2 separate regions of the Homo sapiens genome follow, and region 1 is linked to region 2. Evidence: fine-mapped expression QTL. A gene starts in region 2. The other region holds a variant in brackets. All regions are shown on one strand. Distances are between the middles of the regions.

The links. PIP is the estimated chance that this variant, and not a neighbour inherited with it, causes the effect.
Region 1: its variant is the best candidate, but not a certain one, in a credible set for the expression of PCGF2 in skin (TwinsUK, PIP 0.50).

The regions. Positions count from the first base shown.
Region 1 is chr17:38,872,946-38,877,446 of GRCh38, forward strand. All of the region lies in intron 1 of LASP1 (LIM and SH3 protein 1), which reads left to right. Among named protein-coding and RNA genes, the nearest start is that of LASP1, 5.1 kb to the left of the region's middle. The variant TGA/T (reference allele first, on the strand shown) is at 2,143.
Region 2 is chr17:38,746,474-38,750,692 of GRCh38, forward strand. It overlaps PCGF2 (polycomb group ring finger 2), which reads right to left and starts at 1,863. Exons shown (of 11, transcript NM_007144.3): 1 at 1,723-1,863; 2 at 1,406-1,498. It overlaps LOC100287808 (a long non-coding RNA gene), which reads left to right and starts at 2,561. Exons shown (of 1, transcript NR_149004.1): 1 at 2,561-4,219. RefSeq lists enhancers at 1-432, 1,461-1,996.

The DNA of each region.
Region 1 (4,501 bases), 130 kb after region 2:
GGAGGTCGAGATTTGCTTCTCCAGAGGACTTCTGGGATTAGAGCTGGGGGAGAAACAGGGTGACCTCATTTGCTCATTCAACAAATATTTATTGAGCACCTACTTTGTGCACCTGCTTTGTATCTAGGGAGCTGTGTTGTCAAGAACCTCGCCACGTCCCTCTTTCCTGGCTTGCTTCCCCAGGTTTCTGAAAACAGGTGGAGGTAGAGGATTGGTCTGCTGCCAGTTCCCCTGGAATCCCCTGTTAGGGTGGGCTCTCTGCCTCTGCTTGTCTCAGCGCTCCCTCCCCACTCGAGGGGGTTGAAGTCCTCACAGCTGTGGTGCCCCGTTTTGCTAGCTGAAGCTTAGAGTACCCCACCATCATCTTGTGACCATCCCTTCATAATAGCTACTAGTTATCACGATATGCTGGGCTCAGTCTTCACAGCAGCCTCACAAAGTAGGTGTATTCGCTCTTGTAAACGATGCACTCCATAAATGGAGGCTCAGGTAGCCCATGTGGCTCATCTCCCTCTCTTAGAGCTGAAATTCACATCCACAGTTCTTTCTGCTCAGCTCTTCTGCCAGTGTGTTTGCAGAAAGTACTTTTATTTATACATATTTATATTTTATTTACATCTCATTTGTGCCAAAAGTAGGTCCCATCCCTTCCTGACCCTATCTGGAGGAATGCTCTGGGCCTGGGGTCTTGTATGGGGGCGTGGGGCCACTGGGAATAATCCTGTCCTCCTCGGAATTTGTGGAGGTGCAGCAAAGATCTATGCCTTTAAGCCAGCGGGTCAGGTGGCCAACCAAGCTAGGCTGGTGCCCCGGCCAGGGTGGGGCTGGCATTGCCTCTGCAGGAGGGAGAAACTGTAACCCTGGGCAACAGGAAGGGAAGAGATGGTCTCATAATCCATCCCTGAGTCATGGCCACCCCAGGTAGCCTGGGTTCAGAGGCCAAGGTGCCAGGCTGCAGGCACAGTGACACGAAGCTTGCCACATCCCCCCCAACCCAGAGCCACAGAGGGACAGGCTGTCCCAAGTGAGGGGTATCCTTGCAGGCTTCTGCCCCTACCAGCCTGTTTACCTTTCTTTAGAGTGGGTTGCAGGTAGGCAAGGGAAGATCAAGATGACCCTGCCTTGGAGCCTCGGATCCAGGCTGAGAGGCCTCTAACAGGCAGCAGAGGTAGGGTCTGTCTGGTTTCTGTGAACAGGGAAGCCATGGACTTTGCAGGCAGCAGGAAGGGGCAGAGGTGCATGCCTCGAGGTGCAGTTTCCTTGAGTCCTGAGGCCCAGGAATGCTTCGCTGAAATCATCTTGCCTGGGGCCTTTAAAAGAGGGGGGCTCTTGCTCTGGGACAGAGCCCATGGGGCAGGGCAGAGGCAGACGGGGTCACTGTGGGGTCCTCTGGACATATTTCCCTGACAGTGTCCTTCCCCAGACCCCATTGAGACAAGGCAGGAGTTCTTTCATCTTAGGGTCCAGGCTTGGCTCACAGCGGTTGTGGAGGGACTGGCCATTTTCTGCCTCCCCTCCCCACAATTTTCCTACCCCAAAAAGGACACAGTGGAAGGAGCTGGTGGGTTTTCTTGAACCTTGGGGCCTTCCTCCAGAGAGGGTAGGGGAGTCGCCTGAAGCTGCTGGAGGTGCCAAGCATTAGGGGTGGAACGGCCTCCTCTCCTGACCTTCCAGCACTCTGGGAGACAGTGGCTGCAGCTCCACTTGACACTTGTGCTTCATAGTAACTGGTTTCCATGTTTCTGCTCAGAGCCCCCTGCAGGGGGACAGGCGACCACCCTCCTCTGCCCCACCCTTGGGTGTCTGGATGAGAGTGTGGGGCCTGTGAGGGAGGTGGGAAGGAGCTACTGATAGAAATAGGTGCCATCCCCTAGAAGAGGGGCTCTGCTTCCTCCGCGTGGCAGCCTGGAGGGGTCTTTGGAACCACTGGGTCCAGTGTTGGCCCTGTGCCCCCTGCCTGCTCAGTACACCCCACCCTCCTTCTCCAAGGGGCTTGGCTCCGGGTGCAGGCCTGGCCATCTGGAGTAGGGGTCTCTCTCCCTTTGTCTCCCCAACGTCAATCAGGAGGCAGCCTTGGAGGTCCGTGGTCCTAGGACAGTGTGTAGCCCTTCGTGTGTGTGTGTGTGTGTGTGTGTGTGTGTG[TGA/T]GAAAGTGGGTCATGGTCTGGATTCTGGAGAATGTTTTTCCTGGCAGGCCCCTGTGGGGGTAGGGGGAGGCAGGGGCCCAGGCAGGGGCCTAGGCAGGGGCCTGTGCAGCTAAGTAGGCAGAGGCCAGCAGACTGGGTGGTGACCAGGCTGGGGCACCCTGCCAATGCCTCCCAGTTACTCGGGGAGGGAGTGGGGCTGTCACTTCAGGGGCCTGTGGGGGCAGGGACCAGCCTGTCTTAGTGTCCCTGGTGGGTTCTGTGTGTTGGGGTATGCACCACTTCAGGGGCCTGTGGGGGCAGGGACCAGTCTGTCTTAGTGTCCCGGTGGGTTCTGTCTATTGGGTTATGCACCAGAAGGAGTCTTTAAGTTGCCTCATAGGAGTTTGGGGGCCCTGGGTCACTGGGATAGGCCCAGGTTGGGGAGGGGGCCAAGCTTAGACCCGCCACTTCTTTGCTTCCAGACTTCCGGCTGGCCGTCCTCCCCAAGAGTGGTTCTCCTAGCATTCTGTTTAATATTCCACCATTAGGTTTTTCCTTTGGGTCTTCTTGATAGGGAACCAGTACCCTATTAGAAGGTGATTTCCCCCTGAAATTACCCTGGGGGTCTCTGGTTGAAGTGGGCCATGGTAGGGAGGTTGAATCCCAGATTCTCAGCCTTCTTTCTGCTATCCCCTCCTCCCAGTGTCTCAGAAGCACCTCTCCCTCCGGGGGTTTGGAGACAACATTTTGAAAAGCATCGCCTTGGGGGAATTCCTTGACAAATGGCCAAGAACCAGCTCTGTGGCTGGGCTCCTTCAAAAGTCCCCCTGGGCCTGCCTCCTGGCCTCCTTCTTTTGGAATGGGGAATGTCTCCCTTGACTACTGGGAAATGGGGCAGGGACAGGCCAGCCAGGTCACTCAGGTGGCCTGGATTATTCTGGGGTCCTGGCAGTGGACCCCTGTTTGGTGGTGATCCAGCACATCATCCTGGGCTTCTGGGGGTGAATTTAGATCCTGTTGTCATGGGTTTGCCTAAGCATCAATACTTCTCAGGGGTTCCACAAAGACCCCTCCAGGCTGCCACGTGGAGCCTGTTAGATCGTTTCTCTTTTTTTTTTTTTTTTTTTTGAGACAGAGTCTTGCTCTGTCACCCAGGCTGGAGTGCAGTGGCACAATCTTGGCTCACTGCAACCTCCACCTCCTGGGTTTAAGTGATTCTTTTGCCTCAGCCTCCCAAGTAGCTGGAATTACAGGCATGCGCCACCATACCCGGCCTATTTATTTATTTATTTATTTATTTATTTATTTTTGAGATTAAGTCTCGCTCTATACCCCAGGCTGGAGTGCAGTGGCATGATCTCAGCTCACCGCAATCTCTGCCTCCTGGGTTCAAGCGATTCTCCTGCCTCAGCCTCCCGAGTAGCTGGGATTACAGGCACGCCGTCACTGCACCCGGCTAATTTTTTTGTATTTTTAGTAGATACGGGGTTTCACCATGTTGGCCAGGCTGGTCTTGAACTCCCAACCTCCAGTAATCCGCCTGCCACAGCCTCCCGAAGTGCTCGGATTATAGGCGTGAGCCACCGCTCCCGGCTAGATCTGTTCTCTTTCTGTCATCACTCTCTTCCCTCCGTCGGCCACCCTGGATGGGCCCTGTGTCCCACATTCTCTTTTTTTTTTTTGAGACGGAGTCTTGCTCTGTCACCCAGACTGGAGTGCAGTGGCCTGGGTTCACGCCATTCTCCTGCCTCAGCCTCCCAAGTAGCTGGGACTACAGGCACCCGCCACCACGCCTGGCTAATTTTTTTGTCTTTTTAGTAGAGATGGGGTTTCACCATGTTAGCCAGGATGGTCTCGATCTCTTGACCTCATGATCCGCCCGCCTCGGCCTCCCAAAGTGCGGGATTACAGGCGTGAGCCACCGTGCCCGGCCGTGTCCCACATTCTCACACGCATGAATGGATTGGAGCTGTGGTTGGCACAGTGAAGCCCCTCTGCACCCCAACACACACAATCTCCAGTGTGAGCCCTGACCCCCTCGGCTAAGGTTCACACCTGCTGTGCCCAGCACCTGACATCTGAGTGCTCAGAGGTGCCAAGTGCTGTGCTGAGGGCTTTGAAGGTGATTTCTCCTCAGTCCTGGACAATCCCAGGAGGGCCAGGTGTTATTACATCCATTGTACACACCAGGAAGTGGGCTCCTCTGAGGTGCAGGGCCCCGCCCAAGGCCATACAGTTAGTGGGGTAGAGCTTTGATGTCCACTATAGGGGTGTCCACCTTCAAGGCTTTGAAGTAGAGCCCTTCAGTGCCTCAGTGGGAGACCCGCTGCCGGGTGCTCTCCTGCCCTCCTCCTGGGGTGGGAGAGGATGAGGGAAGG
Region 2 (4,219 bases):
TACGACCCTGGTCCACCCAGGGTAAATTATAACATAAGTCTTCCAGCAACAAAAGCAGTTCAGCTTCCAAAGTCCGCTCTGGGGACCAGAGGCTGGAGGGCTGCAGTGGGCATGTGACCTGCACAAAGCTGTACCCTCTTCCTGTTCGGGCTCTCTCCATTCCCATGACAACAGCTCCATCAACCAAGATCTCTCAGGCAAGGCCAGGGGCAGCAGAGTCCCCCTTCCTGCCCAACCCCCAAGACTTCAACTTGAACCCTACCTAGCTACACATGGTCTGGATCCTGGGGTTGGTTTCCTGCTTCATTCCAAAGTCAGTTCTAAAGCCTCAATCCCCCAACCCCCAACCAGGGGAGCCCGTGGGAAAACCTTCCCACCAAAAAGCTGCAACAGAGCTGGCTTTATGCTCCCAGTAATAACACCTTGGACCAGAGTGAAGGGGGGAGGGAGGAGAGAAATTAAAGAGTTTCAGGAACAGAAACTGCCAGAGGTCCCAGAGGAGGAGGCATCAGAACAGAGCGGGGAGGGGACAACCAGGAGACAGCCCTCCCCTCGAGACAGACCTCTGGGGAGACTGAGGCAGCATGGGGGACACTGAGGGACAAAGATCTCGGGAAGCGCTGGGTAACACTTCCACAATATTCACTGGCAAATCCACCCGCCTCCATGCCGCCTCCTCCCACCTCAAGCCAACCGGAGCGATTATGGGCAGACAGGGGCAGTGGGGGAGGGCGAGGGGCAGCCCGGGCCCACCGTGGAGACAGGCAGGGGGTGTCTGCTTGCCCGGGGGTCCCACGCCCTCAGAGCTAGCAGTAGGAGGGCGTGCGCAGGGTGGGGTGGCTGGGCGTCCCAGGGGAAGGGGGGCCAGTTTAGCAGATCCCCCTGCTTCCGCTGGCGATGGGAAATATTGCGATAAATTTCCCTCCATCCCCATTCTACCCCCAGCGCCCGGGCTTCCCCAGGAGCCCATGTCCAAGGATCAGGGACCCCAGTTACCGGGTGGCCGCTCCCACCTTCCCTAGAGCCAAACTTTCTGCGGGGCCCCGGGAGGGGTGTTCCGGAGGGAGGCTCTGCTGAGGTGGTTCGGGGAGGGGGCGGGGCGCCGGCGCCGGGACGGGGAGCGGGGACCGGCGGGGGGAGGTGCCCGAGAGGACCCGGACCCCGGCGGGGAAGGGCGCCCTCCCCCGGCCTCGCGGCCGCCCCAAAGCACATCCCCTTCTGCCGGCCCCAAGTCCCCGCGCGTCCACGGCGCCCCTGTGCCCACGGGAGAGCGACCCCCGCCCAGATGGAAAAGGGGGTAGACCGGGCAGAGCGAGAGGCGGCTTTGGCTCGTGGGGAGCGGCGACCCAACCCAGCGCGCATCCCGCAAGCCCTCCCGGCTGCCCCGGACCTTCCCCCTCGCTACCTCGGAACAGGGTCTGCCCGGGGGCTGCTGCACAAAGAGGTGGTGGTCGAGGGAGACGCCAAATCGTTAAGACGGGGAGCCCGTTTCGGCCATCTTGGAAGAGAGGAAAGGGAAAAAGGGACAGAAAAAAGGGAGAAAGAAAGGCGGACGGGGCAAGCTGGGCTAGGGACTGACGGGGCGCGGGGGGTGCGAAGGCAGGATCGGCTCAGAGCCTCCCCCTCCCATCGGGGCTTGCGAAGAACGGCCGGCCCCCATCCCAATCCCCAGAGGGTTACAGGCCAGGAGAGGGAAAGGCAGGGGGAGTCCGCTCCGCTTACCTGGGTTCGGGGTCCGGTGGGTCTCGGGGAGGGGGGGATGGGAGGGAGGGAGGGAAGGGAGGGGAGGGGGGCCGCAGCCGTGTCGCTCGCCCGGGCGGCGGGAGGGGAGAAACCTACGGTAAGAAAGGAGTTTGTGAAAGCGGCTTGGGGTGGGAGGGAGAGGGGAGGGGAGGGGACCGAGGGGGGAGGGGAGGGACCGGAGTGTGGGGGGGAGACAAAATGGCTTTTTTCCTCCAGACAAGAGTAGGTCCCGCCCACCACTCACCCACGTGACCTCATTCCTTCAGGATGCTGGCAGAGACGGGAAGAGGAGGGGGAGGCTGGCGCGGCCGCTCCCCGCCACCGGCTGCCGGGTCCCTAGCCAGGACGAGACCCCTCCCTTCCCATGCGGCCGCCCCGACCCCGGAGGATGGATTCTCTTATGTTACCTTCCGCAGTTAGCCCCCCTCCCTTCAAAATATGGGTTCCCCCCACTGACACTGTGATGCCCATCCCTAACTGGGGCGCCTGGAAAATGGTGAAATGGGGACTGGGCTGAAAGGTGGCTCGTGGTCCTCCACGCCCCGGCCTAGACCAAAGGGCGCGGGGCTCCGGCGGGGGACGCGACGCCTTCAGCCAGGCGTCCGAGCGATTTTCATTCACTCCAAGTGACACTCCCTTAAAATTAATAACTGCATCTGGGAGGGCGAGCGTGTCCTCCCCACTCCCCTTGCCCCCTCGGCGGCAGGGGCGCTGGCCCCGAAAAGCGGCGCACCAGGATCCAGCCTGGGCGCCTGGCAGGGAGCAATCGCGAGAGGGGAGTGGAGGTGCGGGGTGAGGCCGGGTGGGGGGCCTCGCCGCGGGGGGATCGGGTAGCTCTGGCGGAGGCTGCGCCCCCGGCGTGCTCGGGCAGAGAAGAACGGAGGCCCGCTGAGGATGGGAACTCAGGCTCCGGGTCTGGGACACAATAATCCGGCCGAAGGCGAGCGGCCACACTGGACTAGGAAACGAGGCGCCGGGCTGTAAGGTGGGCCCGCGCCTTTTCTCCTGCCTGGCGCTGATTCCCGCATTTTTCGCTCGCGCCCTGCGCTGCGCGCTGCCTGTGCGCCTCCCTGGGCGCGCGGGCGGGAGAGTCGGGCGAGCGCCAAGACGGCTGGGCCCGACTCCCACTGGCGCCCCGGCTCCACCTGGCGCTGGGGCTCCGGTCCGCAGTGGCTCCGGCAGGAGGGAGAGAACGAGGAGGGAGGCTTGGAAACGCCGGGAGTAGCGGTGAGGCCGACGCCGGGGAAGCGAATCGATACTGCGTTACTGGACGCCCGTGGGCCTCATGAGGATGGTCGATTCCCTCATTCGTTATTCACGATTTATTAGGGATGGCGGCCGCGTCTGTCCCTCCAGAGAGCTCGATTATCCATCCGGCCAGCAGCGCCATTAAGCGCACTGACGGTGGGAGGCTCGAGTTAGAAATTAGGATAGGAATCTTCGCCCAGTTTTGGAGCGCCTGCCTCCTCTTCCCTCGTTGCTCGCAGCCAAGGCAGCCGCGAAGCTGGGGGCCTCGGGTGAATGCTTTCGCCCTCTGGCCGGCGACCAGGAGACCTGCGCACACTGGCCGCCGAGTGACCCCAGCTCGAGCCTGCAGCCACACCAGCGGGACGGGGGCGGGGAGGAAGAGGAAGGGCGGAGAGACTTCCTTCCAGAGGGAGTGGTCCGAGAACCGGCGGGAGAAGGGCCAAGGGAAGATCCGGTCACCTGCTCCGGAGCCTGCAGGCGGAGAGGCGAGTAGTTCACCGGCCCCGGAGGAAAGGGGACCCTCCCACTGTTCCCAGGCAAATGTGTCGCCGGCATCCTGCACTCTGCCGGGGAAGACGCGCATCCACTCGCTCTGCAGGGAGGGGAACGCGGGAAGGACTCCCAGTCAGCCGCCCCTCTCTGGCTACAAGACCCCGAACAAGAGAAACCTGTAACAGGGGCTCTGCGGAGATCTGGATCCCACCCACCAACCACATGGGCACCTGGGGGGCTGCCCCTCGGGGCATTATCAGCCAGTGGGAAGGGGGTTGACGTTCCTCTGCGGCCCATGAATCCTGGAGGGCTGCCCGAGGGGCCACCGGGGTCCATCCACTTATTCTTCGGTTGTTAAGCGCCAGACAGGAGAGAACCGCTAGAGAGGAGTGTGCTAAGACCCTATTACCCACTAAAACTCCATTTTCATCTTTTGCGTCCTGGATGACTAGTCTCCACATTCCTGGCCTTTCTGGTTTCTCAGGAGAACCTTCTGACCCAACTCTTCCCACATCGAAAGAGTTTCCTAGTCTTTTGTTCTACTACTAGCCGACATAGAAAGCACCTGTCATGTGCCAGTGTCAAATACTGCGCTAGGAACTGGGAACTCAAGGCACAGGAGCCTGGCTTTTGCGCAGGGCGCTCACAGGCCGGTGGGTGCAAACCCTGAAGGACACACAGCCTGTCCCTTTAGCGCCCATCGCTTCTGGTGTGAGCTCCCGCTAAGGGTGGGTGA